Linked DNA regions of Homo sapiens. The protein of the gene in region 3 purifies or fractionates together with the protein of the main gene of each other region. This does not show direct contact. Each region holds a gene or a part of one and is shown on either strand. Other genes may lie near its edges.

Region 1 (4,961 bases), on a different chromosome or scaffold from region 3:
ACTCGTCTGTCTGTCTTCCCGTCTGCCCCACTGGGCTGGAAGGAAGGGAAGGCAGAGGCAGTGTCTAATTCCTCCTAGGTCCTCTGCATCTGAAACCAGCCTGGTCATGAATGTTCAAAGAATGAGCTGTTCTATATGTGTGTGATTCGAGGGGATCCCTGACGGGGGTGGCTCTGGGGTAGGTGTGTTCTTCTAGGGTCCCAGAATCTTCCAGGCCAAGGGAGGGAGATGCGGCTGTGCCTGAATGGGGGTGGGGTGGTAGGCTGCTGAGTCACTGTGTGGGAAGAGATCAGGAGGAATGTGGGTTGCCCTCAGCTGAGCTGGCCCTGGACAAGATACCCCAGCCCTCAGGCCTTGCTGCCCCTTCTCAGGCCTGTTCCCAGTAGGCCCTGGAGAAGATGACTCTGCTCCCAGGGAGGGGAAAGTGGCCAGGCCTGCCCAAGGCACCCTGGGGAGGGCAGGCAGCCAGGCAGGAAGTGGGACAGAGAACAGGCTGGAGTGTTTGTCCTATGTCCCAGGTCCCAGGCGGGGGTGGGCGGGGGGGGGGGTCATCCAAGGGCCCCACAGGCTAAACTGTGGGGAAGGAGCCAGGTCAGGCTCTGAGGCAGGCGCAAGGGTTGCTAAACAGAGGTAGGGGTTGAGGCAGGAGCTGGACTCCCTTTTTCTCCAGGGGACCAAGGCCAGTTGGAAGCCCTTGGGCAGGGTCCAGAAGAGGGCAGGGCTGACCAAACAGCAGGACAAATGTTGGAATTGACATGCCCAGTAAGATGGAGACCAGAAGACACCCTGCCTCTCCAGAGGTGGGCTCTCCCTGGGCCAAGGCATCTCAAGGGCCAGAGCCACTTAAGTCAAGGAGACTTTGCTGAACCTGCATATCTGCACTGTGCAATGGAGGGAGGTGTCTGGGAGAGGTAGAGTGCCACCCTCCGACTCACAGGAGTCACCTCCCTCAGGCTTCTCTACAGGCACTTCTCAAGGGGCTAAGTGCCATGCCTTGTGGCGGGGGAGGAGAGCCCGGGGAGGGAAACATGGACACGTGGATGGAGCATGTGCCTGCTTGTTACAAAGGCAGGCTTTGGGGTCCTACTGTAGACTGAGTCAGACTCTTAAGTGTTTTGTTTTGTTTTGTTTTTTGAGACAGAGTCTCACTCTGTCTCCCAGGCTAGAGTGCAATGACATGATCTCGGCTCACTGCAATGTCTGCCTCCTGGATTCAAGCAATTCTCCTGCCTCAGCCTCCCCAGCAGTAGCTGGGATTACAGGCACCCGCCATCATGCCTGGCTAATTTTTGCATTTTTGTAGAGACGGGGTTTCACCACGTTGGCCAGGCTGGTCTAGAACTCCTGACCTTAGGCGATCCACCCTCCTCAGCCTCCCAAAGTGCTGAGATTACAGGCGTGAGCCACCACGCCTGGCCTAAAGTTAGTTTTTTAATAGGCCCCTTGGGTGTCTCTGAGGTCCAGCTAGGACCATTGTAACTGTAGCCCACTTTGGGAGAGGCCAAAGACCCTGAAATCTGGTGGGACTGGGAAGTCTATGGATCAGACCCTGTCTTCACCCTCTTACTCACTGAGACACACACACACACAGACACACTCTCCCGGGTGGGTTTGCACCTCCCAGCCATCTTAACACTTTCTTTCTGGGGCTTAATGCTTTGTGACTATAGCTTATCACCCCACAGGGCTGTGAGCTTCCTCGAAGGCAGGAACTTCCTCCCATCTTCTCTCCATTCCCCTTCCTCATCTGTGTTTATTAGCTCAACAAGTCCTAGTGAGTGCTTACTGTGTGTCAGGTGCTATGCCAGGCTCTATAGATACAGCAGGGAGCAAGACAGACGGAGTGCCTGAACGCAGAGAACGCAGCTAGAGGAGACCAGTGGCTCGGATATTAGAATGCTGTGTGGAAGGTCTCGAAAGGGAGCATACACACAGGGTGGAGTGGGTTGCATAGCAACCTAAAGAATAGGTAGGTATCAGCCAGGAGAGGAGATGGTACAAACAAAGGCCAAGAAAGCCTGGTGCCTGACACAGATGGGCTTTGCACATAGTAGGTGCTTGAGAAGCAACTGCTGAAGGAATGCACAGCTGTAGTGCAGACCCTGTGTCTCTCTGCCACCCTTCAAGTGGTAGGTAAGAGGTCAGGGGTCTTCATACATTCGCCTGCCACCTCTTCCTCAGTCTCACAGCTGTTCCCTTTGCCCCCAGTTGGAGGATTGTGCTCTGCAAGTGTCTCCCTCCGGATACTACCTGGACACCGAGCTGTCCCTGGAAGAGCAGCGGGAGATGCTGGAGGGCTTCTATGAAGAGATCAGGTCAGAACTGATGGGGCCAGGGAGGCAAGGTTACCCCCACCCTTGCCAGGGGCTAGCTCAAATGTCAGCAGCTGAGACACTCGATCACTAGCCTGAGCCATGGGTCACCTCCTGCCCCAGGGAAGTGTGCCAGGGGAATTCTAAAGCCTGGCCAGTGTTACCTGCTGCCCAAGGTGGGAGTTAGGGGCTCTCCCACATACCTGAGATACATGTGTTTGCACCAACCCTCTTGTCCGACCAACCCTTGGGTTCTTGGAGGAGCAGCTGGGAGGAACAAGCTGGGCTGGGGCTGGCATGGGGAGGTCTTTGGCTCCCTTGGCTTGTGGGGAGGAATGCTGAGGGATAGGCTGGGAGCTGCTAACAGAGATCCTTGATTCCAGCAAAGGGCGGAAGCCCACGCTGATCCTTCGGACCCAGCTCTCTGTGAGGGTCAACGCTATCTTGGGTGAGTGTGTGAGAGCATCCATGTCCAGCAGCACCTCCTCCCCATAGCCCAGTTGGCTCACCTTCAGGCCTGTGCTGAACAGTGAGCAAAGTAGGTTTAGCTGTATGTGCTCCTTCCTCTCCCTATCCTGACCTCTTCTTCCAGGGCCATGGTGGGAGTGGAGGGGGATTCAAGAATGTTAGAATAGACCAGGCGTGGTAGCTCATGCCTCCAATGCCAGTGCTTTGAGAGGTCAAGGTGGGAGAATTGCTTGAGGCTAGGAGTTTGAGGTTGCAGTGAGCTATGACTGTGCCACTGCACTCCACACTCCAGCCTGAGTGACAGAGTGAGACCCTGTCTCTCAGACCAAAACATATATATTAGACTATTCTTTGGTGGAGAGTTGTGGTTGTATCCAAGCAGAGGAAGACAGTGAGTCTGTGTCCATCAAGGGTTTTATACCCTACCTTTTGCAGAAAAGCTGTATAGCTCCAGTGGTCCTGAGCTCCGCCGCTCCCTCTTCTCACTGAAGCAGATCTTCCAGGTGAGGCCCCGCAGTGGGCTGGGGGTAAGTGTGTAGCCCAAGCTTCCCTAAACTCCCCCATGGTGCCTCTAGGAGGACAAAGACCTGGTGCCTGAATTTGTGCATTCAGAGGGGCTGAGCTGCCTGATCCGTGTGGGTGCTGCTGCCGACCACAACTACCAGAGCTACATCCTTAGAGGTCAGCCCCGCCCCTCTCCCATGACCTCTGCTCCAGCGACCCTCGCTGACTCTGCCCATCCCTGTTTCCCCAGCGCTCGGCCAGCTGATGCTCTTTGTGGATGGAATGCTGGGGGTGGTGGCCCACAGTGACACTATTCAGTGGCTGTACACATTGTGTGCCAGCCTGGTAAGTGGCTCTCCACTCAGCCTTATACCCTTTGCCTGTTGCTTCTCTCTGGGCCTCAGTTTCCTGTTCTGCAAAGTGAGCTGGAAGGGAGTGAGTCTGAGGCCTCTGTAAGCCTATAAGGCACTTCAGTGCCTGGGCCTGGGGCCAGGGTCATTCTGCCTAGATTCTCTCTGGGTCCAGCCCCAGCAGCCCTTCCCCTTCCCCAGCAACAGCTGGCACAGGTCTGGCCTAAGCCCCACTCATATGTACTGACCTCTCTCCTCAGTCCCGCTTGGTGGTGAAGACAGCCCTGAAGCTGCTGTTGGTGTTTGTAGAATACTCCGAAAACAACGCACCGCTGTTCATCCGTGCAGTGAACTCTGTGGCCAGCACCACCGGTCAGAGACTGTCCCTTTCTCCCCCCACCGCTCAGAGCCCTCTCTCCTACCTGTTCCCCCATGACTGCTCCACTTTCTGTGTGGCAGGTGCTCCTCCCTGGGCCAATCTGGTGTCCATCCTGGAGGAGAAGAATGGCGCTGACCCTGAGTTGTTGGTGTACACGGTCACCCTCATCAACAAGGTGTGGCCAAGGACTGGGTGCCAGCTCTGGGATGCTCAGGCTCCTGACCTCCCCACCAACCTCAGCCTTGCCTTCTTATCCCCGCCCTCCAGACGCTGGCGGCGCTCCCGGACCAGGACTCCTTCTACGATGTGACGGATGCACTGGAGCAGCAGGGCATGGAAGCGCTGGTCCAGCGCCACCTGGGCACTGCGGGCACTGACGTCGACCTGCGCACGCAGCTTGTGCTCTACGAGGTGGGCCGGGCCTTACGCTCTGAGGCGGATTGGAAAGAGGGAAGAGAGAAGCGCAGTCCCCAGCGCCCCACCCCACCTGCATACACGTTAACCACTTTCTTACATCCTGGTCCGCCTCTGCTAGAACGCCCTGAAATTGGAGGATGGAGACATCGAAGAAGCCCCAGGCGCTGGTGGGCGGCGGGAACGACGAAAGCCTTCTTCTGAGGAGGGCAAGAGGAGCCGCCGTTCTCTGGAAGGCGGGGGCTGCCCCGCGCGTGCCCCGGAACCTGGGTAAGTACGAGCATCTGTAGATGGGAAAGGGTGGATCTACTAGGCATGGCCCAGTGAGCTGACAGGCCCTGACCCCAACCCCCTCAGGCCCCGCCCCACAGACAGCCCCCACCTCCTCCACTGGGCCTGCCCTACCGACATGCCCCACCTCCCGCCCCGCAGGCCCCACCCCACTGACAGGCCCCGCCTCCAGCTTCTCAGGCCCCGCCCCACTGACAGCCCCTGCTTTCAGCCCCACAGGCCCCGCCTCACCGGTAGGCCCCA
Region 2 (4,961 bases), on a different chromosome or scaffold from region 3:
TATTTCCTTCTTATCTGAAGCTATAAGGCTGCATTCAGGCTAAGAAGGTAATTTACGGAAGCTTCCTTCTTCATGACAATGTTGAGTCGGGATCTTGAGGGTCAATAGGTTCATAATTTATTTCCATAAAATCCATTATCTCAGGGCATAGTGGTTGCAGCACCTGCCGTTCATAAGTAATCCATGCCATCCACTCTAACTTCCCGGGCACAGGTTGCTCAGGGGCTTTACTACCCAGCATGGTGCCCTTAATCAATATCCTCAGAGACATCAATGGCTTTTGAACAATTACATGATGGCTCCTTAGCTTCCTTAACTACGGTGTCAGTCAGCTGCATTCCACTTCAATCATCATCACTCAGAACTCTCCCACTTCCAAAATCTTAAACATGCAAATTCCTTTTTCTGACCACAACTTCCTCACTTTGCCCTAACTTCACCCTTGAGCCTGCCCCAGACCATCTTCCCAGACTCATCCCCTGCTTTGAGCTCCTGCTCACACCTATGCCTGGCCAAGCTGAACTCCTGGTTACACTTGCGGGGCATTCCTTCATGACTCTGAATTTGCAAATGCTGTCACCTCATGAGAAGGTGTGTGAGGCTGGGTGTGGTGGCTCATGCCTGGAATCCCAGCACTTTGGGAGGCCAAGGTGAGAGGATTGTTTGAGGTCAGGAGTTTGAAACTAGCCTGGGCAATATAGTGAGACCCTATCTCTATAAAAAACAAAAAATTGGCCGGGTGCAGTGGCTCTTGCCTATAATCCCAGTAGTTTGGGAGGCCGAGGCAGGTGGATTACTGGAGGTCAGGAGTTCAAGACCAGCCTGGCCAACGTGGTGAAACCCTGTCTCTACTAAAAATACAAAATTAGCAGGGCATGGTGACATGTGCCTGTAATCCCAGCTACCCAGGAGGCTGAGGCAGGGGAATTGCTTGAACCCGGGAGGCACAGGTTGCAGTGAGCAGCGATAGTGCCATTGAACTCCAGCCTGGGCAAAAAGAGCAAAACTCTGTCTCAAAAAAAAAAAAAAAAAAAAAAAAAAAACTTATCCACATGTAGTGACATGTGCCTGTAGTCCAAGCTACTCAGGACCCCAAAGTGGGAAGACTGCTTGAGCCCAGGAGTTCACTGAGCTATGATTACGCCACTGCACTCCAGCCTGGGTGACAGAACAAGACCCAGTCTCTCTCGCTCTAAAAAACAAACAAACAAACAAACATATTGGATGACTCCCCGGTTATTCATTCCTTCTGCCTTGCAGAGCAAGCTTGTCCATCCCGCAGCCCAGGATGGCTTTGAATGCATTCCCACGCAAATTGGTAAACGTTCTTAAAACATTATGAGATCGTTTTGCAATATTTTTTTTTGGTTCATCAGCTGTTGTTAGTGTGAGTATATTTTATGTGTGGCCCAAGATAATTCTTCTTCTTCCAATGTGTCCCAGGGAGGTCAAATTATTGGACACACTTGTTGTAGAAATGTCTATTAAGTTGTATCATATACAATACAATTAACTTTTTTAGATTAAAAAATAGTCATATACTGGCAATTTTATATGGCTCAATTTCAACAGTGTTGTTATAACTATTTATTTTTTCTTATTCACTAGATTAGGCTACTTTCCTGTTAAAAGACAATAGATTTAATAAGAAGGCAAACCTAGGACCAAACCCAGCTCTACTCTAATAACTCAGTGATCTTAAGCAAGTTCCTTGACTTCCCCAAGATTTATAAAGTTCCTCATCTATAAATTGAGGATGATAATAATGTCTCCTGACAGAGTGTTGAAAGAATTAGAGGAAAATACCTGTGCAGTTCCCCAACTAGTAAACAATAGCTGCTGTGGACTAAATGGCTGTGTCCCCCCACAATTCATGCGTTGAATCCCTAATCCCTGATGTGATGGTATCTGGAGGTGAGTCTTTGTGAGTAATTAGGTCATAAGGGTAGAGACTTCATTATGGGATTAGGGCCCTTATAAGAAGAGACACAGACTATTTCTCTGCCATATGAGAATACAGTGAGAAGGCAGCCATCTGCAAGCTGGGAAGAGAGCCTTCACCAGAAGCCAACCACCAGGCACCCTGGTCTCAGACTTCCAGCCTCCAGAATCGTGAGAAATCAACAACTGTTGTCTAAGCCACCGGGTCCATGGTGTTCCAATACAGCAGTCCGAGTTGACCAAGACAGGCATCTTCACGTCGAAGGCAAAAATCAACATTTATTCATCTTTGTACTTCTATCACCCAGCTGAAGTGTTTATGGGGTTGTATTCAATTCCTTCTTATCATGACCTTGAATTCGTCAGCCTCTCCTTTTCTCCACCCCTCCCACTCTCTCAGTCAACAGCCAGCACCAAGGGGCAGCGATGTAAATGAGTGACTTTCAAAGTGGATGCCCCAGTTCCCACTTGAGCCTTCCAAGCTGGTACCACATGGAGCACAGGCGAGCTGTCACCTCTGAGCCCCACCCAAACTGTAGATTCATGAACAAACCAGCAATCATTATTGCCTTAAACCACTAAATGTAGGGGAAGTTTATTACACGCCAACAAATAATGGGATGCACAACATCAAACCCAAATCTACCCCACTGTCTAGCTTTTCTCTTAAGTCAGTAAGAGCCCCTTCTCTCTCCTTTATTTTTCTAGCTCCATTTCAAGAGTTTTTGCATGACATACTACAAGTCTATTGTTAGTAATCATAAAATTGTACTGTTTTTCCCATAACTAGGGTATATATTTGGCCTCTTTTTCCTTTAGGATTCTTTTCAAATATTCTACTCTTTTTAAGCAGCTATCGAAAAACTTTTTGATTCTTTGCCAGTGCCTTCTAGCAAATGGCTCTCAAACCCAGGAAAAGACTTAGTGTTCTATTATGATATATGTGTGGATCAATTAGCAGGTCTTAATTCATTTCATCACACAGGTAAAGAAGGCTAACCTAGGCCAAGTGTGGTGGCTCACGCCTGTAATCCCAGCACTTTGGGAGACTAAGGCAGGTGGGTCACTTGAGGTCGGGAGTTCAAGACCAGTCTGGCCAACATAGTGAAACTCCATCTCTACTAAAAATACAAAAATTAACCAGGCATGATGGTGTGTGCCTGTAATCCCAGCTACTCAGAGGCTGAGGCAGGAGAATTGCTTGAACCCAGGAGACGGAGGTTGCAGTGAGCCCAGATCACGCTACTGCACTCCTGCCTGAGTGACTCATCTCAAAATAAATAAATAAATAAATTTAAATTCAAAAACACTAATCTGGTCTTCCCTTTGGGTGTGTTTGTCATGTTAATCACCCATGGCCACTGAGTAAGCCTCTACATTTGGGAAAGGTCCATGTGATTCCATTCAGATAGACCTGTATAATCTGCTAATCCCATCCACTTGATTTGTTTGAGTGTGGCTCCAGTTAAGTATGCTAGAATGGAACATTTATTGTACCTATAACAGTTGGCTCCAAGTCCACGAAGAGTGCTCTAGGCACATGCTTCCCAGCTCTTGTCTCACAGAAGAAGGTATCGAAAGATGCATTTGTGTGCTCCATTTTTGCATTTTCCAGCTGATCCTGTTGAGTGTCAAGAACAACGCCATTTGGCTGGATTCCATGTTCCAGGCAATAGAGTTCCCAGCAGGCGTCCCCAATCTGGATGCCAGCTTGACCGATGTGGATGGAAAGGCACTCCCTCTAAAATAAGTCATGGTGAGTTGGAACTGAGCAGGTGTTTAGAAAACAGGAGATCTGTTACTCAGCCCTTCTGGTTACAAATGACAGAAACCAAGCTAGCTTAAGGCCACGGAGGAATGTGTTATAAGGATAATCAAAAGCGTTTCATGGAAACCAAGACCCAGGGTACAGCTAAGCTTCAGGGAAAATTAAACCTGGGATTTAAATTCCATTAAAAAGTTTATTTTAACAACATAAATTAAGCACCTACTCTGTACTTGGCTAAGAATTGAATTAAGACAAACACACACAATGCAAATCAAAATACAACTAATTTTACTTTATTCTTTCAATATAGGTGAGATGTGTGTGTGTGTGTGTGTGTGTGCGTGTAGTTATATATATCAAGTGGGCTTGTCTAGAAATAAAATTAGCTAGTTATTGGAAAGAAATAAAACTAAAATCAATATATAGCCTTGTCAAGTACTAAAACTCATCGCAGATAAATTTAAAATGTTATCTTTACCATTCATATGCACTCTGAATAAGGATGGATATACTAAACTTAAAACTAGTGGGAAATTTTACAAGGCAAAATGCAATAGATTTAACAGTTCCAAAATGTAAAAGTTTTATAACAAACATATAGAGATAAAAATTGATTTTATATACATCAACTTTCTAAAAAAAAACACTTAAGACATCCACTAGCTAGGCAAATGATATAAACAAACAAATTACAAAAGAAAGACTCTAAAATGCAAGGATGTAGGCTGATGGCATTCACAAGCATCACAATTCATAAGCATGAAAACCAAAAACCAATCTATTTAATCTAACCATTTATATATTGTTGAGCATTTAAAGGATGTTACATCAACACAATGACATGTTATGCAACCCTTAAACGTTTTCCCAAAAAAAAAAGATTTATGACATGGGAAATGCTTATGATAACATATTAAGTAAAAAGCACATAAGATGCATGATTGCATATAGAGTATGATGTCCAATATGTTCAAAAATAGGCATAAAAATCTAAAAGAAAATGCATCAAGATATTAAGTTTAGTAATATCTGGGTAGTGATTTTATTTTCTTGTCTAAACTTTACTATTTCTTCCACCTTCATATTCCCCCATCCCACTTTAAATCATCTTTTTTTTAAGGCAAACAACTATTCTGTTAAACAGACAATGATCTACGTTTTTAAGAGAAGGAAAGAAAAAAAATGAGAAGGAAAGTAAAAGCTAAATTCTAAGAAATCTGAGGTGATAGCAATCGCTGTTCTTAATATTGGT
Region 3 (4,108 bases):
TATTACCTTCTAAAATTAACTTATAGGAGGAAGTTATAGGTAACATACTACATTTATTTTCTCCTAAATATCTTTATTATAAGTTAAAATAAATGTTAAATAAAAGATTTACTATCAATAAGATAAAAATTTCTCTATAATGTAATATGGATTGAAGTGAGGATGTTGGAAGTGAGCAGTCTTTTCTACCAATTTATGGATTTGAACATATTACTTCATTTAATTTGATAATTATCAGAATAAAGCCAAAAAATAATATTTTTAAAAATAAGGTAAGAAAAAAATATTTGTTTTGATTATTCCTATTCTTTTCTCAGGCCTAATTCCTCGCTTAATTAAAATTGCTCCTGCTTGTGCCATTATGATCAGTACATATGAATTTGGAAAGGCTTTTTTCCAGAAACAAAATGTTCGAAGGCAGCAATACTAGTGATGCTGTTTCAACTTGAAACAACAACTATAGCCAAAGAAGATGGAGACTCTTAGGCAAGAATGTTTTTCACCATTATTCTCTCACAATGATTTTATGTCTTTCTTTCCTATAATTTAAATAAATAATTTCAGCTCTACCTCTAAATCATAATTTTAAAATAAATTTTATCTTATTTTTGGTGATATTGAAAAAGATATTCTAGAAATCACCACCATTGAGCATTCTTGTAAAAATAGATTACTCCTTAGCATCAAAAGCAGTCTCTTGAAAGTTTAATATTATATGTTTCAGTGTAACATAATCTTACTGGGAGTGTGTTGAATACACCAGAACTTTTTGAATTGTGTGCTGAATGATGTACATAGTCTAGAAGAAAAAAGCCCAAGTCTTGTGCACATTTAAATCGTGTACATAAGTATTTCCGTATTTCAGTAAAGTAGATAAAGCACTCGTTAAATAGCATTGTTTACATCGACCAAATATTGCCTGTTTCCTTTAATTCAAATGCATTAGGTTCCCGCCTCCCTCTCCTTCCCCGCCATGTTGCTGTTTTAAGGCTTCATATGTATTAACATTTCTCTGATCAAAATTGTGGCTGTTTTCCTTATGAACCATAATATAATCATTTGTGTGATGTACATTGTGCCATTTTTGATGACTAAATGTCTATATTTCTGCCATTCCTGTAAGAGAGGGAGTTTTTTACTGATAGTAGCAAATGTTCACTTCAGTCAAACTTGGGTGTTCAGTGGTAAACCATATAGTATTTAGACTGGTAAAAATAGTTTGCACACAGGAATAGCCTCTGATTTTTAGCTCTCTTGTAATCCAAGTATCATTGTTCATGGAATTCTCTAGGTCATTTTTATTGTGTTGTTCTAACAAGACAGATTATTGCTACAACAATAGTTACAAGATATTTCTAAAATATCCTTTGATTTTTACTCTAAGTATGGTAGAGTAAGAGGCTAAACAAGAAGCTGTTTCCTTGAAGACATTGCTTTCAGTCACCATACATGTCTAAATAATTTAGCTTATCATTCATTCTATGTAGGAATGAGATAAGAAAGGATATGATGGCAGGAAAAGAAATGCTATTCATTTTTTATACTTTAGTTTTATTTTCTTAGGATCTATATCCTATATATATATATTTTTTAAAGCACTAATTTATTGCAGTCTTTATTTTAGAAAAATGTGAAGCATTTTTTTCTCCCCTAAAATGAATATATTTAGATGACAAGTCTTTAGTGCTGGTAGAGGAACTAATTGATTTTGTACTATAGTAGGAAAGTGTTTATATGTTTCACCAGAAATAAAATATGTAGGGTTTGTATGTAATCTTCTGTGTTTATCCTATGTTGATTTACCTTAAATTTGCAACATACATATCCACATAAATATTCATGACTTTCTTATATTTCATTAAAATGTTTTATGGCTTCTTAAAATCATCACTGTGCTTCTAAATATTTTTACGTAAAATCATTGTATAATGCTATACTGTGATATACATGAAAGTTTATCTTGAACAGTGCTCTTTAACAATATTAAATTTAAATTTATCTTGGTTTTGCTATGCTTATGGGTAATTCATAGAAAACAGAAAAAATACTGTTCCCAAAAGGCAGTTATATATTTCAGTTTAATATCACCTATAAGTATGAGAAAGGTTTCCATGTCTCCTACCCCTCACTGCACTTAGGAAAATTCTTATTTATGAATAAAGTAAGATAAGTAAATCTAATTGCCTAGTCGTTTTTTTAACACATATACATGCAATGTATCTGGATGAATAGAAGGCTGAATTGAAGCTTTCTTTATATTTAAGAGGTAAAAAGAAATATTAATACTTTTAAAATATACTAACAACCAAAAAGTGTTCAGAATTTTGCTATAATAATAATTTGTATTAAAATAGTACCTAGAAAAATTCAGTCTATGGAATAGGTAAAATTTTAAAATTTTAATTTGCTCTCAGAGTTCTGTCTGATAAAATAATTGAACTATAATTGGCATGATGAATATTCCCAGGTTTTACTTCAGTATATAAATTTAACTCTCAGCCACATGGGCTTTCCAGACTTTTCAATACATATGATGTTGCAGGAATTGCAATATTTGCAAACATGTGCCACAACAGTGTTCTTGGTGATGTTTCTAAAACAGTTTTTATTCTATTAATGTTAAATTTTCTAACATAAACATTTAATTGATTAATGTAAAATTTTAGGAAGGAACATCTTTAATTTTCAATATGAGATGGTTGCAACCTTTAAAGTAGTACATATTTGATTTTTTTTAAAAGGCAATATTTTTTTTTCTAGGAAAACTATTCATTATGGTTATTTAACTGCATATGTTTTTTAAATTTTTCCCTCTTGGAACAACATGTACTGGGGCCTATCAAAGGGTGGAGGGTGGGAGGAGGGAGAGGAACAGGAAAAATAACTAATGGGTACTAGGCTTAATACCTGGGTGATGAAATAATCTGTATAATAAATCCCCATGACACAAAAGTTTACCTGTGTAACAAACCTGCATATGTACCCCTAAACTTAAATTCTTCCCTCTTTTTGTCTTGGGCACAAGTTTTTGGGATATGGAAAAGTTTATTGTATCCCTTTTGAATTTTCTTCTAAGATGAACTTTTTAAATAAAAGATATTACTGCTTTTATATTTAATCTGTCAACATTTATTGGGACATTTTATGTAGTAGGCAGTATATAAAAAGCACTGGAGATGATAAGATATTTCAGATATTGTTACTGGCCACAGGAGGTTTCAGAGCTATGATTGAGTGATTGATAGAAACATACAAAGGGAGTCATGGGAAATATGGGGAGTTGTTCACTCAGCCTGGGGGCAGAGAAGGGGAGTGGTCAGGAAACCTGAGTTGGACTGACAGACAGGCAATCCAATAAGTAAACATGCAGGGAAGTGGGAGTCTCAATAAGGCAATAGAATTTAGTCCATATGGCTTGAACAAAGTGTATACATGGGAAAGTGTAAACATGGAAATGTAATCTAAGGCCTTGTGCGCTTAAGGAGGAACAAGAAGGCTGTGAGAAACCTAGGAAAAACTTTTTGGCAAAGTTGTAACAGTTAGTTAGACTTGGGTTTTGGAAGATACCCAGCAGTATGGAAAATGGGGCTTATGATAAGGTGATCTATGTTAAAATCTAAAAGTTTTGGTTTGTATTAAAATATGCTTTTTAAATGTACCATAATGAAAAAGAGGTAATTTTAGCTTCCCTTTCCTATCAATCAGTTAAAATGACAAATGCTAAAACTAAATCGAAGCTGCTTTGCTTTCAGAAGAGCAGAATGAACAACAGTCTTGTGACACTTAAGTGGTAATCCAATATGTTAGTTTAGTTTAGCAAAATCTGCACATTTCATCTAATGATAGGAACTTTAACAAAGCAGTTTTCTAAGTTGTAAATTTGGGACACATTGATAACCACTTAAAACTGTATGTAAATCTAATGATTTAACAACTAACTTATGATCTACTTTTTCTGCCACTCATAATTAGTAGTAGCTTGCATTTGGCATTTATCTCTTTAGAACTTCTTTTATATATGATTTTATTTAATGCTTACATCATCCTGATGCCATCTCTTAGGTGCCAAGAAGATAGTGATGATTCTTACAGGTGAGAAAACAAACAT
Region 4 (4,961 bases), on a different chromosome or scaffold from region 3:
ACAAGAAAAAGGATGCGGCAGGAGTTAACCATCCTCCCCTTCTGTCCCTCCAGGAGGCAGGGAGGAACATCTCAGGCTGAATGCTGGCCTTCCCCAAATGGCCCACAGGGAAAGGCTGGGGAAAAGGAGCTGGATTCACTGCCCAGTACTTGTCTCATTTCCCAAGACTTTATCCAATTCTCAGCCACTGAGTAGGGTACCACCTGGGTCCTAGTGTGCTAGATAGTTTCAGGCAGGAGCCTGGGAGCAAGGGCTGTGCTGGCCCTCTTGGCTTATCAGGGGGCTTCCCTGGTCATCCTCCAGCAGCAACTGTCTTAGCGCTGGGTGGCCAGCGTCCTGGGCTTGTAGACAGGGACATCTTTGTCCCAGAGTGCAGGCTGCCCCTTGATAATGTCAGCTGCCTTCTCTGCGATCATGATTGTGGGGGCGTTCAGGTTGCCGCTGACCATGCTAGGCATGATGGAGGCATCGACGACCCTGAGGTTTTCCACCCCGAGGACCCTTGTCTGCGGATCCACCACGGCAGTGGGATCGGAGGGCTGGCCCATCTTACAGGTGCACGAGGGGTGGTAGGCGCTGTCGGCTTTTGCCCGCACAAAGGCATCTATCTCTTTATCTGACTGAATGTGGCTTCCTGGCTGGAGCTCTTTCCCTCGGAACGGAGCCAGGGCTTCCTGTGCAAAAATTTCTCTGGTGAGCTTCACACACAGACGGAAATCCTCAATATCAGTTTCTGTCGAGGAGAAGAAACAGGTGAGGACCCCTCCTTTTGCCCGTGCTGGCCTCACTGGAAGATTCACGGCATGGAGAGGCTCTGTAAGCTGTCTGAGGGGATGGTGTTTGGGGACAAAGTTCAGGGCCATGGGGGACTGAGCCAGCAGGCTGCTTGTCCCTGCCCACAGCGGGTTAGACTGTACCGTGTAGCTCAAAGGTAGCATCCTACACGGACACAGCCCACCCAGAGGCCCAGGTTTAAATCAGGGATCTGACTTATCTGTAGGGCAGGGATAAGTACACACACCCTGCCCCTGCTACAGTGGGGCTGTGAGCACCCTGCAGCCACTGCTGGGCAAAACCTGCCCAGTGGGTAGTGCTCGTTTTTGCTGCATGCAAAGAGGCAGGCCCAGGAATGGAATTTGCTTTTAGAGACTGCTCAGAGTGACAACAGGAAAAATGCTCTACCTACAGACCTGGCACCTGCATGGCGTGGTCTCCCTGCACATCATGGCAGATTGTTCTGAAAGCTGAAAATCTCCCCTACTGTCTAAACCCTGGGACTTCATTTATCTCATGTGTCCCAGGACACTACGGGGCTGCCTATGCAAGTTTACAGCCTAAAGTGACACGGTGGGGGACGACAGAGGGTCACTTGTGTCCTAGAAAGTGTAGTCCAAGGGTATGATTCAGGGATAAACAGGAACCCCACAAAGGCATTCGTTTGTTCAAGCCCAGGAAGACACAGGTGGGTGAAGTACCTGTTGACAAGTAGTTGGGCTGGATCACAGGGTGGTCTTGGGGATTGGCACTTCTCAGTTTGAGCCAGCCCACACTCGTGCCCCGCATGGGCCCCACATGTACCTAGAAGAACACAGAGGAAGCAGTGACGGTCCCTCCATAGACATCCACAGTGACCTCTGTCAACCCTGGTTTACCTGTAGGGTGGGCCTCTGCTTCCAGAATCAGTGGGGAACAGATGCATGTTAGCATTTGCCCGCATGGTACCCACCTCCACGAGTGATTACAGACCACCTCAAGGAATCACTCTTTCATCCTGGCCTCATACTCCATGGCTCAAAGCTTTCAGAGGTGGTGATCCCAGAGCCAAGTCAGCCCCTCTGTTTGTCCCATTTCTGGTGCTCGGTACCTAGCCTGCATGAAACAGTCATACCATTGGCATGCACCACGCAGACTGACACGCTGGGCAGCTGGAAGGCAGGGGACAGGCCTCTGTGTCCCCCACTCTGCAGCCATATGGCACCAGGGAGAATGCTGCCTTGGAAGATGGGAGCATCTTCCTTCCTGGTGGGAAGGAGACATCCTGGGAAGCCGAGGCTCTTCCACCTGCTCACCTGGTAAGCCTCCTGCTGGGTGGGGACCCGCCCGTGGTCAATCACTTGGGATGGCAGGAAATGGAACTGGATGTCCGGGTGGGGGACCCCAGGCTGGCTGCGGATGAACCCACCTGTTTCCAGATGGGCAGTGGCTCCCTCCCCTGAGAAGCAGAAGAGGATGAGGCAGAAGAGCCAGTCAGGCCGTGGCAGGTGGGCCGGCTGCTCCTGGTTTCCCTCCTTTCTCCTGGCCGCTCCTCTTCCTTTTCCCGGACTCCACTCTAGTGCCTGGACCCAAGTCCTGTCCACATCTGTTCACCCCTCACAGGGGGCTCACCCAGCACCACACCATAAAATGTCAGCTATTTGCCAAAAGGATGGCATCAGCTCTGCTCTCTACCAGGGCCAATTCTGCCACTGCCCATGCCACCTGCCTTACCGGCTCTTCCCACTACCTAGCACAGCACACAGCACATACTAGGTGTGTGAGAAATACAGACTGAGTGGATGGGTAGGATTTTAAACTACCATTTCCTGGCCCAGGCACAGCTAGAAATCAAATGGAAAAGGTTGAAAGATGAATGCTGATTCTGCAGTCTAGCCCCAAAGTCTCCTCTCTCCACCTTTTCTCCTGGCTCCTTGGACCTCACCTGCTGTCCAGCACAAGGCCATCCCTGCTCATCCGTAAGGAGGAGCAGCCCCTAAGCCCCGAGGAGTCTCACCTCCAGCAGGCCCTGGGCCAAGCTCCTTGGCATGTGCTATTGTTTCTGGTCCTCGCTTCAACCTGTCAGGTTGAAACTGTGCATCCCCATTTTGAAGATGGAAAAACTGAGGCTCAGGGCTAAGGTAAATGGCATAGTTCCGCATCAAACCCAGTGGCCAGAACCCCTGTTCAGCTCCTCAGGAAGGAGGTCTCAATGCTTATAGGCAGTCTCCTCCCAGGTTACTGGTAAGCGTGCTCACCTGTGAATTTCCAGAGCCACTCCAGACCAATGCAGACCTTCCGCAGGGGCTTCTGTGCTGAATGGAGGGTGATAGGGCGGGTGCATGCCTGCTGAATGTAGATCTCCAGGTGGTCTTGCAGGTTCTGGCCAACCCCTGATACGGGAAGGAGTGGTTTAGAAAATGGCTACCAAGGGGGCTCAGCTGCTTCTCAATATCCCCCCGGTTTTGAAAAATTCTTTCCTATTCCCTTATCTTCTGGACCAGCTCCTGCTCAGTTCCCTGGTCTCAGCTTAAAGGCTGCCTCCCAGAGACACTATGTGTGCACTCCTGGCCAAGTCTGGCCTGCCTCGGATGCTGCCAAGGCCACCTGTCCTTGTCACTCACTCCTACGGCAGCCTCTGGGTGCCCCTTGTCAGCCCTGCTCAGCAGCCCCCTCTGTGAGGGCAGGGCCTACGCCTTCAGCAGGCACTGCTTGGTGAGCGGTTGCTGGATGGTGATGGCCAGAGGGGCAGACAGCAGCCCCACCCTCACGCCAGCGTGGGGAAGGAGGAAGCAGCCCTGTCGTGCTACACCGTCCTTGCATGAATTCATCCAAGCCTACTGGGACACTGGGCAGGTCAACATCATGAAGCAGCACTTCCCCGGGCCCCTCATGATGAAGCCTAAAGGCACAAAGGCCTAGCCCTCCCGGAGTGGGGTTATCAAGGAGGGCAAGAGACAGAGCCCGACCCTCAAGAGCATCAGAGACAGTTTATAAAACAAAGTTTACATCTTAACATGAAGAGCAGGCTCTGGAGCACGGAGCTGACCTCATTCATGCTCAGGGCAGCCAGCGAGTCCTGTGGATGGAAGGACGAGGCCTGGACCCCTCTCGCCATAGAGCTGCCCTGGTGACACGCCCATGCCCGACCCAGTGGGGCTTCAGGGCAGATACTCCCTGCTGCAGGGTGCCCTTCTCCAAATGAAATAGGGCAGCCGGAGGAGGGAGAAGGAAAACAATGCAAGACTCGGGGCCCAGGGATGACAGTGTCCAGTGAGGCCTGGGAAACCTTCGGGCTCTCGGGGACAATGTGATAGTTCCAAGGATCACTGACTGCCACCACCTCCCCACTTCATGCTAATAAGATACATACACTAAGCCTTTTGTTGAGCAGAGACAGCCTCTGGGGAGCAGTAAAGAAGGGGACTCACCAGGTAGGTGGCACACCACAGGGATGCCCAGTTTCTTGAGGTCATCAGCATTCCCGATGCCAGAGAGCATGAGCAGCTGTGGAGAGTTGATGGCACCTCCACTCAGAATCACCTCCTTGCTGGCATAAGCCTGGAAGAGGTCCAGCCAGGTCACTCCCTGAAAAGCCAGCTGTTCTCCTGACTCACAGACCAGCGCCCTACTCTAGCCAGCACCATGAGAACACAGCCTTGGGATGTAGAATCCTGTGGCACACCCGGGACAGGCCCCAGAGCTAAGGAGAGGAAACTCACTGAGTCACTACTTGAAAGCAACCAGCAGGTGCAACTACAGCTGGACAGTAGTGACAGCCTTAGAAACAGGAGGGGAGGGCTTACACGAGATAAATGAAAGCAGGCATTCAAGTGGGTGGTTTAGAGAGAGCAAGCGGTGAACCAGATCTACACATGAAGCTGCAAAACAATCAGACCCCCTGCCAACAACACAGAAATAGAGTACAATCACATTTATGGGTTTTAAAACCTCTAGTGTAAACCTATAGCTTTAAACCTATAGCTTTCTGTGACATCGGTGCCTTGAAATGGTGTGGAAGGTACTGGGGGAGAGCTCTGAATTAGGCATGGCACACAGGGGCACTGACACCATAGGCCCTTTCTCGGTGGCAGGACTAGGGGCTTCTTCACCTCCACCAGCCCACTGCCATCAGCTACTCGCCCCTCCCCCCGCCATCACAGGGATGAGCACGTGGGTCTGGGGGTGAGGGCGTGACTCCTGCCCAC
Region 5 (4,961 bases), on a different chromosome or scaffold from region 3:
TACTTACCAGTTGAGCATCTCTAATCTGAAAATCTGAAATTTGAAATGATCTAATGAGTATTTTGTTTGTCACATTACTGCTCAAAAAGTTTTGGATTTCAGATTTTTGGATTAGAGATACTCAGCCTGTGTTATTTATCAAATGAACTGAGTTCTTTCTAAGCCATATGCAACAGGATGGGTTTCAGATTGCAACACATTGTTCTTTAGAGGACTTCAGAATGCTATGCAAAAAACATTTTAAACAGAACTAATGTGAATAGTTTTTGAAACAGTAATATACATCAGCAGAGAAGCAGAGGGGAACTAGCAGGGGAAAGAAGGCAAGATTCAACATAAAAGAAATGATTCAGATAAAATGAGCAATTTAACTCAGGTAATAGTAAGAGAATCTTTTTAAAAACAATTTATCCTTTTATTTTATTTTATTTTATTTTGTTTTATTTTTTGAGACGGAGTTTCACTCTTGTTGCCCAGGCTGGAGTGCAATGGTGCGATCTCGGCTCACTGCAACCTCCACCTCCCAGGTTCAAGCGATTCTCCTGCCTCAGCCTCCTGAGTAGCTGGGATTACAGGCATGCTTCACCGCATCCGGCTAATTTTGTATTTTTAATAGAGACGGGGTTTCTCCATGTTGGTCAGGCTGCTCTTGAACTTCCAGCCTCAGGTGATCTGCCCACCTCAGCCTCCCAAAGTGCTGGGATTACAGGCGTGAGCCACCGCACCCGGCCAATTTTTCCTTTTTTTAAAAAAAAATTATCGTAGTAAAAAACATGTAATTCTGGACTGCTCCCCATAGGGTTACCACCTCTTAGAAATTGTCCTCTAATGAAGGTGACTGGAATGTTTTCTCTGCTCATACTGTAGTATTATAAATACATGTAGTCATTTGTACAAAAATTCTTCTAAGCCCTAGCTGCTGACTAAAAGCACTATATGAAGTTAGGAAATTTTAGAATGAAAGAATCTGGCTAGTCCCTTGAATTTGTAATGAGATTGACTGCTCTGTGTTACATGCCTGCCTTGTAGTTGTTTCCCCCATTGTCTGTCAAAGTGGAGAGTAATCCCAGATGGTTTGCATGGGAGGGCTACAAAGGGAGATGATCCTCAGGGACTCAGAGGAAGTATCTAAACACTGGTCATGCGTTATCTGAAGCCCACGTAACAGTTTCTTCAATAGTATTATCTTCAACTACTCTCTATAATGCTATCTGATAATATATCTAAATCTCTTCACGCACATTTTTTAAGAATGGCTTTTTTTACTGTGTGTTTCTGACTACTAAACTGAGTAGTCTTCATTTCTGTTATAGGAACTCCATGCTCCACTGACTGTTGTTGCAGATGGGCTTTTCTCCAAGTTCAGGAAAAGCCTGGTCTCCAATAAAGTTTCTGTATCATCTCATTTTGTTGGCTTTCTTATGAAGGTACTGTAGGAGTGTGTTATTGTAATTTCAATAAAAGAAACTTGAAATTTGAAAATTATTAAAACATTTTCTTTTTATTTGTTTTAGAATGCACCACAGTTTAAAGCAAATCATGCTGAACTTATTTTAGCTAACCCGAGTCCAGTTCTCATCTACCAGATTTCATCCAGTGAAACTCGAGTACTTGTTGACATTAGAGGAGAAATGCCAAGGAATTTAAGAGAATACATGGTTGAAAAAATTTACCCACAAATACCTGGTAAGAAATAGCATCTTCAGTTCTTACAAAGGCTGTGTCTAAAATAGGCCAGAGATAAGGATGGCAGGTGAAACATTCATCCAGTCAACCAGATATTCTGGAACTGAACTATTTAAACTAGCACTTAAAAACAGCAAAACAAACTCCCAAATTAATAAAAAAAAGTTTCGGGCCGGGCACAGTAGGTCATGCCTGTAATCCCACCACTTTGGGAGGCTGAGGTGGGCAGATCACCTGAGGTTGGGAGTTCAAGACCAGCCTGACCAACATGGAGAAACCCCGTCTCTACTAAAAATACAAAATTAGCCGAGTGTGGTGGTGCATGCCTGTAATCCCAGCTACTCAGGAGGCTGAGGCAGAAGAATCGCTTGAACGGGAGGCAGAGGTTGTAGTGAGCCGAGATCGTGCCATTGCACTCCAGCCTGGGCAACAAGAGCGAAACTCCGTCTCAAAAAAAAAAAAAAGTTTTGATATGTTTTTGTCACATAATAGCATAGTTTTTAGAATAATTGTTTTTATTGGCATATATGGTATTTTTAAAGGTAGTCTCTGGACACGAATCTGACTCTGAATTCTTTATCTCTTATACCTAAATATTTTTGTGCTTGGTTTTTGTAGTAATGACAGCTACCATTTCTTGAATGCTTACTATAAAGTGTTTAGCAAACATAATTTCATTTAATCTATGTAACCACTCTGTGAGGTAGGCATTATCATTATTCTCATTTTACAGATGGGAGAACTAAGGTTCAGAGAGATTAGTTAGCTCCTCCAAGTATAAACTATTAGTAATGGCAGAACCAGGGTTGATATCAGGTCTGTCTGGCTCATATGTGCCTGTTTGAACAGACATGTCCTGTCCGCAGAATGTGAGAATTGTAAGGGATCTTCAGGATCATGTTAGTTTTGAGTTGAATATAAAGGCTTCATGAGATTTAGATAGCTTTGTAAAAACATTAATAAAAATTACTTTTTCACAAATCTAAAGTTTTCATGGTACAGTTTTTAGGATCTTTTTTTGAGAATGGGATGATATAGGAAAGAAAAGTAAAAAAAATTTAAGAATTTTGATAAAATTGAAGGGAAACCCTCATTGTCAATTATGATATGATTAGAGTAATAGGAAACTATTTTTGGTATGAGTACATTTTGTTTAAATATTCCGTTTTTTTCAAGTTATTTTTTAAACTAAGTGAAACCACTTTAGTAACAAATTATTAACAGAAATGAAGTGAAATGAAGTGGGCAAACTTAGATTTTAAATAATGACATTTTCAACATGTACATGGAAACATTTCAATAAATTTTCATTTAGTTAAGCCACTTTTGAAGCTTTCAGATGGGGAAATTATGAATATTTATGAAAAGGGTCATCCATTACCTGATATTTTTAGCATTTATTTTTCTTTTATTGTAAATGTGGTGGTTTTTCTTTTTTTTTTCTTTTTTCCAATCCAGAGGTTAATTGGAGTAGAGTGCCCTGAAATTATGGAGAGAAACCATTGGTAGGTTTATATTAATATTAGTTAGATTACCAAAATTCTACTCCTTAATATGAATGGAATAATTTTTAACAGAGGCTTCTGCTCCTCTATTCCCAGATCACACTGGGAATTGTATGACAGTTCATTTTCTATATAAGTAGCACAGAAATTTAAAGCTTGTTTGGAAGTATCTCAGAGATGAGCTGATCAAACCATTTCATTTTTATAGATGAAGAAATTGAAGCTCAGAGAGGTAGGGCTGGCCTCGAATTCCTTTTCTAGTGTACATACCCTCCTGCTGTTTGTGAATTGGTAGTGTATTTCATCTGATTATTACAAGAATATATTGATTATAATACATTAAATATTAAATATGACAGTAGTCTGTTAACATTTGGAAGAAAGGTAGGTGGTTTTCTCCCTGTTTCATTTCATCTGAATTTGCCTCATTGTTTTTTCATTCAGTTGTATGTATGTTTATATTAATGTTCTCTTAGATTCCTTAGTCATTCCTTGGCATTAACAGCTAAGTGCTTAATGAATAATTTTATTAATGAAATAATTAGTTCTTGATTTATCACAAGGGATATATGTAACAACCATAACAGATGTATAGTAGGCATTTGTTTATACTTGATAAGAAAATATGTGATACTTTGAAATTGAAGTGTTATGACCCATTTCTTTGGGTTGGTGGGATTTATTGCAGATCACCTGAAAGAACCATTCTTAGAAGCCACTGACAATTCTCATCTGAGGTCCATGCCAGCAAGCTTCCTTCCTCCTTCATCAGTGAAGAAACGAGGTATTATTTTTTGGGCTTATTTTATAAAGGAATCAGTATTCCAAATGACAAATATATGATTAAATTTATACTGTTACGAATAACTTCTGGGACAGATAGTTTGTCACTGTGGATTAGTGCATTATTAATACCAAAATTAGTTTTATGATCTATTTAGTTGTTAACATTGAGTGTATACAAGTATTGTGCTAGTCAGGGAAACAACAGGTAAAAAACTGACCTTGACCTAGAGAAGGCAATTTTCTACTTAGGAATGTAGACAGATAATTTTACAACACTGTTGATAAATAAAACCCACAGATTCAGTGTCAAGAAGTGTGCAGAGCAGGGAGGGAAGCTTGTGAAATGGGAGGGGTAGTTAGGGAGGACGTTGTTCAGGAAACAGTGGAAACAAAGGACCTTGGACCTGGAGGATGAGTGGGAGTTCATGAGGTGGACACTAAGATGAGGAACTTCTAGGTAGATGGAATAACATTGCCAAAGGATGAGAAATGGTGGCACTTTCAAGGAACTCAAGCAGTTTCCTATGGCAGGAGCATAGGGTGGGTGTCAGAGTGGGAGACAGACCATTAACATTTAATCTTACAGACAATGGAAAGTCATTTGAAGTGTTTTCTTGTTACTAACTTTATTGATATATAATTCACAAATCAGTTTGCCCATTTAAAGTGTACAGTACAGTGACTTTTTTAGTATATTCACAGTGTGTGCATCACCACCACAATCAAATTTAGAACATTTTTATCTTGCCCAAAGAAACCCCGTACCCATTGGTATTCACTCCCCATTTCCTCCCAACACTCAGCCCTAGGCTACCCCTAATTTACTTTCTGTGTCTAGATTTGTCTATTTGGGATGTTTCCTAAAGGCATTGTATAGTAAAGCCCTTTGGAACTGGCTTTTCATTTAGCACAATGTTTTTGAGGTTCATTCATGTTGTAGCATGTTTCAGTTCTTCATTTGTTTTTATGGCCAAATAATCTTCC
Region 6 (4,961 bases), on a different chromosome or scaffold from region 3:
GCTGGGACTACAGGTGTGCACCACCATGCCCGGCTACCAACTTTCTTGCTTTTAAAGACAATTCCCAAATGATTTTTTAGTTTAGAAATGATTCAGGCAAAAAAGGGGAAAACATGCTTTTATATCTGCAGAAGTTTTTAGTTTTTAAAAGTGGATTATGGTATATAATAGTTTTGTCCCCTGTGTTGCAAGGAACTAAGACCTCAGGTTATTTCTCTTTTCATAGGTACAATATAAGAAACATAAAAGAAATAAGCACTTAGGTACATACAGTTAGGCATTTTTCTTACTGATTAAACTCTACAAATCTGTATGATTGTTATTTTTTTGTACTCAATATTACTGAATAACCTAAGAATGCTTTCAGTTGTTGAGAAATGTAACTTTTAAATGTATTCAAGAAACATTTGTAGTGTACATATTATATATAGGGTATTGCACCAGGCAGTGGAGTTGGATACAAGCAGAGCAGGTATTGGTCCCTGACTTGAAGGATTCTAGCAAAAGAAACAGACAAACTGGTGCTTATAAGGGTTATAAGGAAAGTACAAGGTCCTATGGGACTGCATAACCAAAGCACTTACGAACTTAAAGAGACAAAAATTTCTGAGAGGAGGTCAATTAAGATGTGAACCTGAGTCCAGTATGGTGGCACCCAGTGGCAGTGTGAACTGTGAGGAGTTCGCCGAGTTCCAGGAATTACTCAAGGTGATGTGGACAGTTGATACAGACTAGTACATTAATTAAACACTACAGTTCCAACAGCTTCCTTTGCAGGGAAGATTGATGCCAGCCAAACCTGTAAACAACTTTGAGTCTTTGATGGCAGCTCATGCCAGTAGGGACAGAGTCATAAAAAACTATATAGCCCAGACCTCAGCAGTAGTAAAAAACCTCTGAGAAGAGAGAGAAAAGAATTTGGACGATTTAATATTGTTAAAGCAACTCAGAACAGAGCAGGCAAAGTTGAAATGGATGTAGTCAGAATGATAAATGACAGGAGCTGGAAGGAGTTTAATGAATGCTGCCGAATTCACTTCAAACCTCCAAATAAACAGAATAAACGGAGATACTTTTTTTTTTTTTAAAGGACCGGGTCATCTCATAAGAGCTAAGCATGACAAATGTCAACAGGGCGGGCTTCCTAGGATGATTTCTGAGCCAGTAGTCCAAGACCTTTTGTTGATTTCAGCCCCACTTAGGCAAGACCTCAAATATAAATAATTCTGATAATTATGGAGAAATCAACTGCTATTTTATACTGATTCTGTTAAAAAAAAAGTTTTGTAACTATTAAAATAATGTTCTGACTCAGTGTAAAAAAAGAAAAACCAAACCTGAAAAAAAAAATGGGAGGAGTTAGCTAGGAAAGAGTATCTGAAGGGGATGGAAAGGGAGGGAAACTCTCACAAGTAGAGGAATCAGCTTGTGCAAAGGCTTAGAGGTATAGAGAGCATCTTAAAAATATTTAATGTGGTCAGAATGTGGGGTTGGGAAGGGAAATGAAAGGATTTGTGATAAACTTCCCCTTTGAGAAGGTCATGTTTTTTTTTTCTTTTTCTTTTTCTTTTTCTTTTATTTTTTAAAATTTGAGACAGAGTCTCTCTGTGGCCCAGGCTGGAGTGCAGTTGCACAATTTCAGCGCACTGCAACCTCTGCCTCCCGGGTTCAAGCGATCCTCCTGCCTCAGCTTCCCAAGTAGCTGGGATTTCAGGCATGCACACCACTATGCCCAGCTAATTTTTGTATTTTTAGTAGAGATGGGGGTTTCACCATGTTGACCAGGCTGGTTTCGAACTCCTGACCTCAAGTGATTGCCCACCTTGGTGCCCCAAAGTGCTGGGATTACAGGCATGAGCCACCGCACCTGCCCGAGAAGTTCATGATTAGATATGAAGGCAACTAGTAAACATACTGGCCTAAAATAAATACAGTGTTTAATCTCTCTATCCAGTCCATTTATGCAGTTTCTTCAAAGCCAGTCTCAAGTGTTTCTCTGTGAAACGTGCCAAACCTCCTTTAGCTAAAATACATCACTCTCTCTAAATTCAGACCTTGTCTGTGTTAGGCTTTTGACAACTAATTACACTGTGATTGAAACCACCATTGCAAAATTATAACTGAGACAGTGAAAGAGATCTGACCTAGCCAAAAAAAGATGGAGCCAGGCATGATGGTTCACGTCTATAATCCTAGCACTTTGGGAGGCTGAGGCGGGCAAATCACTTGGGGCCAGGAGTTTGAGACCAGGCTGGCCAACATGGCAAAACCCCATCTATACTAAAAATACAAAAAAAAAAAACCAGGCATGGTGGTGCACACCTGTTATCCCAGCTGTTAGGCTAAGGCACAAATCACTCAAACCTCGGAGGCAGAGGTTGCGGTGAGCAAAGATCGAGATCGTGCTCCAGCCTGCGTGGCAACTAGACCCTGTCTCATAAAACAAAAATAGAAAAATAAAGCAAAGATGGTAACAGCCCTTTCCTAAAACAAACCCCCTTCTTGCCTGGGGACTAGACTGCCTTTGTAGGTTTAATGAATTAGCCACAGATTAGAAATTATGGTTTAGGAGTCGTGCAGCTGGAAGTTATAAGATTCTTTTTTTTTTTTTTTTTTTTTTAATTTATTTTTTTATTGATAATTCTTGGGTGTTTCTCACAGAGGGGGATTTGGCAGGGTCATGGGACAATAGTGGAGGGAAGGTCAGCAGATAAACAAGTGAACAAAGGTCTCTGGTTTTCCTAGGCAGAGGACCCTGCGGCCTTCCGCAGTGTTTGTGTCCCTGATTACTTGAGATTAGGGATTGGTGATGACTCTTAACGAGCATGCTGCCTTCAAGCATCTGTTTAACAAAGCACATCTTGCACCGCCCTTAATCCATTTAACCCTGAGTGGACACAGCACATGTTTCAGAGAGCACAGGGTTGGGGGTAAGGTCACAGATCAACAGGATCCCAAGGCAGAGGAATTTTTCTTAGTGCAGAACAAAATGAAAAGTCTCCCATGTCTACTTCTTTCTACACAGACACGGCAACCATCCGATTTCTCAATCTTTTCCCCACCTTTCCCGCCTTTCTATTCCACAAAGCCGCCATTGTCATCCTGGCCCGTTCTCAATGAGCTGTTGGGCACACCTCCCAGACGGGGTGGTGGCCGGGCAGAGGGGCTCCTCACTTCCCAGTAGGGGCGGCCGGGCAGAGGCGCCCCTCACCTCCCGGGCGGGGCGGCTGGCCGGGCGGGGGGCTGACCCCCCCCACCTCCCTCCCGGACGGGGCGGCTGGCCGGTCGGGGGGCTGACCCCCCACCTCCCTCCCGGACGGGGCGGCTGGCCAGCCAGAGGGGCTCCTCACTTCCCAGTAGGGGCGGCCGGGCAGAGGCGCCCCTCACCTCCCAGACGGGGCGGCTGGCCGGGCAGGGGGGCTGACCCCCCCCACCTCCCTCCCGGACGGGGCGGCTGGCCGGGCGGGGGGCTGACCCCCCCACCTCCCTCGCGGACGGGGCGGCTGGCCGGGCAGAGGGGCTCCTCACTTCCCAGTAGGGGTGGCCGGGCAGAGGCGCCCCTCACCTCCCGGACGGGGCGGCTGGCCGGGCAGGGGAGCTGACCCCCCCCACCTCCCTCCCGGACGGGGCGGCTGGCCGGGCGGGGGGCCGACACCCCCACCTCCCTCCCGGACGGGGCGGCTGGCCGGGCGGGGGGCCGACCCCCCCACCTCCCTCCCGGACGGGGCGGCTGGCCGGGCAGAGGGGCTCCTCACTTCCCAGTAGGGGCGGCCGGGCAGAGGCGCCCCTCACCTCCCAGACGGGGCGGCTGGCCGGGCGGAGGGCTGACCCCCCCACCTCCCTCCCGGACGGGGCGGCTGGCCGGGCAGAGGGGCTCCTCACTTCCCAGTAGGGGCGGCCGGGCAGAGGCGCCCCTCACCTCCCGGACCGGGCGGCTGGCCGGGCGGGGGGCTGACCCCCCCACCTCCCTCCCGGATGGCACGGCTGGCCGGGCGGGGGGCTGACCCCCCACCTCCCTCCCGGATGGGGCGGCTGGCCGGGCGGGGGGCTGACCCCCCCTCACCTCCCTCCCGGACGGGGTGGCTGCCGGGCGGAGATGCTCCTCACTTCCCAGATGGGGTGGCTGCTGGGCGGAGAGGCTCCTCACTTCTCAGACGGGGCAGCTGCCGGGCGGAGGGGCTCCTCACTTCTCAGACGGGGTGGTTGCCAGGCAGAGGGTCTCCTCACTTCTCAGACGGGGCGGCCGGGCAGAGACGCTCCTCACCTCCCAGACGGGGTCTCGGCCGGGCAGAGGCGCTCCTCACATCCCAGATGGGGCGGTGGGGCAGAGGCGCTCCCCACATCTCAGACGATGGGCGGCCGGGCAGAGACGCTCCTCACTTCCTAGATGTGATGGCGGCTGGGAAGAGGCGCTCCTCACTTCCTAGATGGGATGGCGGCCGGGCGGAGACGCTCCTCACTTCCCAGACTGGGCGGCCGGGCAGAGGGGCTCCTCACATCCCAGACGATGGGCGGCCAGGCAGAGACACTCCTCACTTCCCAGACGGGGTGGCGGCCGGGCAGAGGCTGCAATCTCGGCACTTTGGGAGGCCAAGGCAGGCGGCTGGGAGGTGGAGGTTGTAGTGAGCCGAGATCACGCCACTGCACTCCAGCCTGGGCACCACTGAGCACTGAGTGAACGAGACTCCGTCTGCAATCCCGGCACCTCGGGAGGCCGAGGTTGGCGGATCACTCGCGGTTAGGGGCTGGAGACCGGCCCGGCCAACACAGCGAAACCCCGTCTCCACCAAAACCAGTCAGGCGTGGCGGCGCGTGCCTGCAATCGCAGGCACTCGGCAGGCTGAGGCAGGAGAATCAGGCAGGGAGGTTGCAGTGAGCCGAGATGGCAGCAGTACAGTCCAGCTTCGGCTCCGCATGAGAGGGAGACCGTGGGGAGAGGGAGACGGAGACGGAGACGGAGA

The links.
Region 1: the proteins of SLC25A40 (region 3) and FHOD1 purify together in Homo sapiens (co-immunoprecipitation; one large-scale study listed by IntAct). This does not show direct contact.
Region 2: the proteins of SLC25A40 (region 3) and TUBAL3 purify together in Homo sapiens (co-immunoprecipitation; one large-scale study listed by IntAct). This does not show direct contact.
Region 4: the proteins of SLC25A40 (region 3) and CHDH purify together in Homo sapiens (affinity purification with mass spectrometry; one large-scale study listed by BioGRID and IntAct). This does not show direct contact.
Region 5: the proteins of SLC25A40 (region 3) and SQLE purify together in Homo sapiens (co-immunoprecipitation; one large-scale study listed by IntAct). This does not show direct contact.
Region 6: the proteins of SLC25A40 (region 3) and HIGD1A purify together in Homo sapiens (co-immunoprecipitation; one large-scale study listed by IntAct). This does not show direct contact.

Annotation. Positions count from the first base shown.
Region 1 is NC_000016.10:67,236,702-67,241,662, reverse strand, and holds part of FHOD1 (FH1/FH2 domain-containing protein 1), read left to right. Parts: intron 1-2,208; coding exon 2,209-2,315; intron 2,316-2,695; coding exon 2,696-2,760; intron 2,761-2,777; exon of another isoform or gene 2,778-2,850; intron 2,851-3,215; coding exon 3,216-3,283; intron 3,284-3,355; coding exon 3,356-3,461; intron 3,462-3,534; coding exon 3,535-3,629; intron 3,630-3,894; coding exon 3,895-4,006; intron 4,007-4,093; coding exon 4,094-4,188; intron 4,189-4,280; coding exon 4,281-4,424; intron 4,425-4,548; coding exon 4,549-4,697; intron 4,698-4,929; coding exon 4,930-4,961. UniProt on the Homo sapiens protein: Required for the assembly of F-actin structures, such as stress fibers. Depends on the Rho-ROCK cascade for its activity. Contributes to the coordination of microtubules with actin fibers and plays a role in cell elongation.
Region 2 is NC_000010.11:5,397,406-5,402,366, forward strand, and holds part of TUBAL3 (tubulin alpha chain-like 3), read right to left. Parts: intron 3,683-4,961; coding exon 3,439-3,682; intron 1-3,438. UniProt on the Homo sapiens protein: Tubulin is the major constituent of microtubules, a cylinder consisting of laterally associated linear protofilaments composed of alpha- and beta-tubulin heterodimers.
Region 3 is NC_000007.14:87,832,571-87,836,678, reverse strand, and holds the end of SLC25A40 (mitochondrial glutathione transporter SLC25A40), read left to right. Parts: intron 1-317; coding exon 318-430; 3' UTR 431-3,111; downstream 3,112-4,108. UniProt on the Homo sapiens protein: Probable mitochondrial transporter required for glutathione import into mitochondria. Glutathione, which plays key roles in oxidative metabolism, is produced exclusively in the cytosol and is imported in many organelles.
Region 4 is NC_000003.12:53,817,463-53,822,423, forward strand, and holds part of CHDH (choline dehydrogenase, mitochondrial), read right to left. Parts: intron 4,315-4,961; coding exon 4,185-4,314; intron 3,147-4,184; coding exon 3,012-3,146; intron 2,213-3,011; coding exon 2,070-2,212; intron 1,579-2,069; coding exon 1,476-1,578; intron 734-1,475; coding exon 315-733; 3' UTR 1-314.
Region 5 is NC_000008.11:125,007,658-125,012,618, forward strand, and holds part of SQLE (squalene monooxygenase), read left to right. Parts: intron 1-1,313; coding exon 1,314-1,427; intron 1,428-1,514; coding exon 1,515-1,686; intron 1,687-3,879; coding exon 3,880-3,975; intron 3,976-4,961. UniProt on the Homo sapiens protein: Catalyzes the stereospecific oxidation of squalene to (S)-2,3-epoxysqualene, and is considered to be a rate-limiting enzyme in steroid biosynthesis.
Region 6 is NC_000003.12:42,796,957-42,801,917, reverse strand, and holds part of HIGD1A (HIG1 domain family member 1A, mitochondrial), read left to right. Parts: intron 1-4,961. UniProt on the Homo sapiens protein: Proposed subunit of cytochrome c oxidase (COX, complex IV), which is the terminal component of the mitochondrial respiratory chain that catalyzes the reduction of oxygen to water. May play a role in the assembly of respiratory supercomplexes.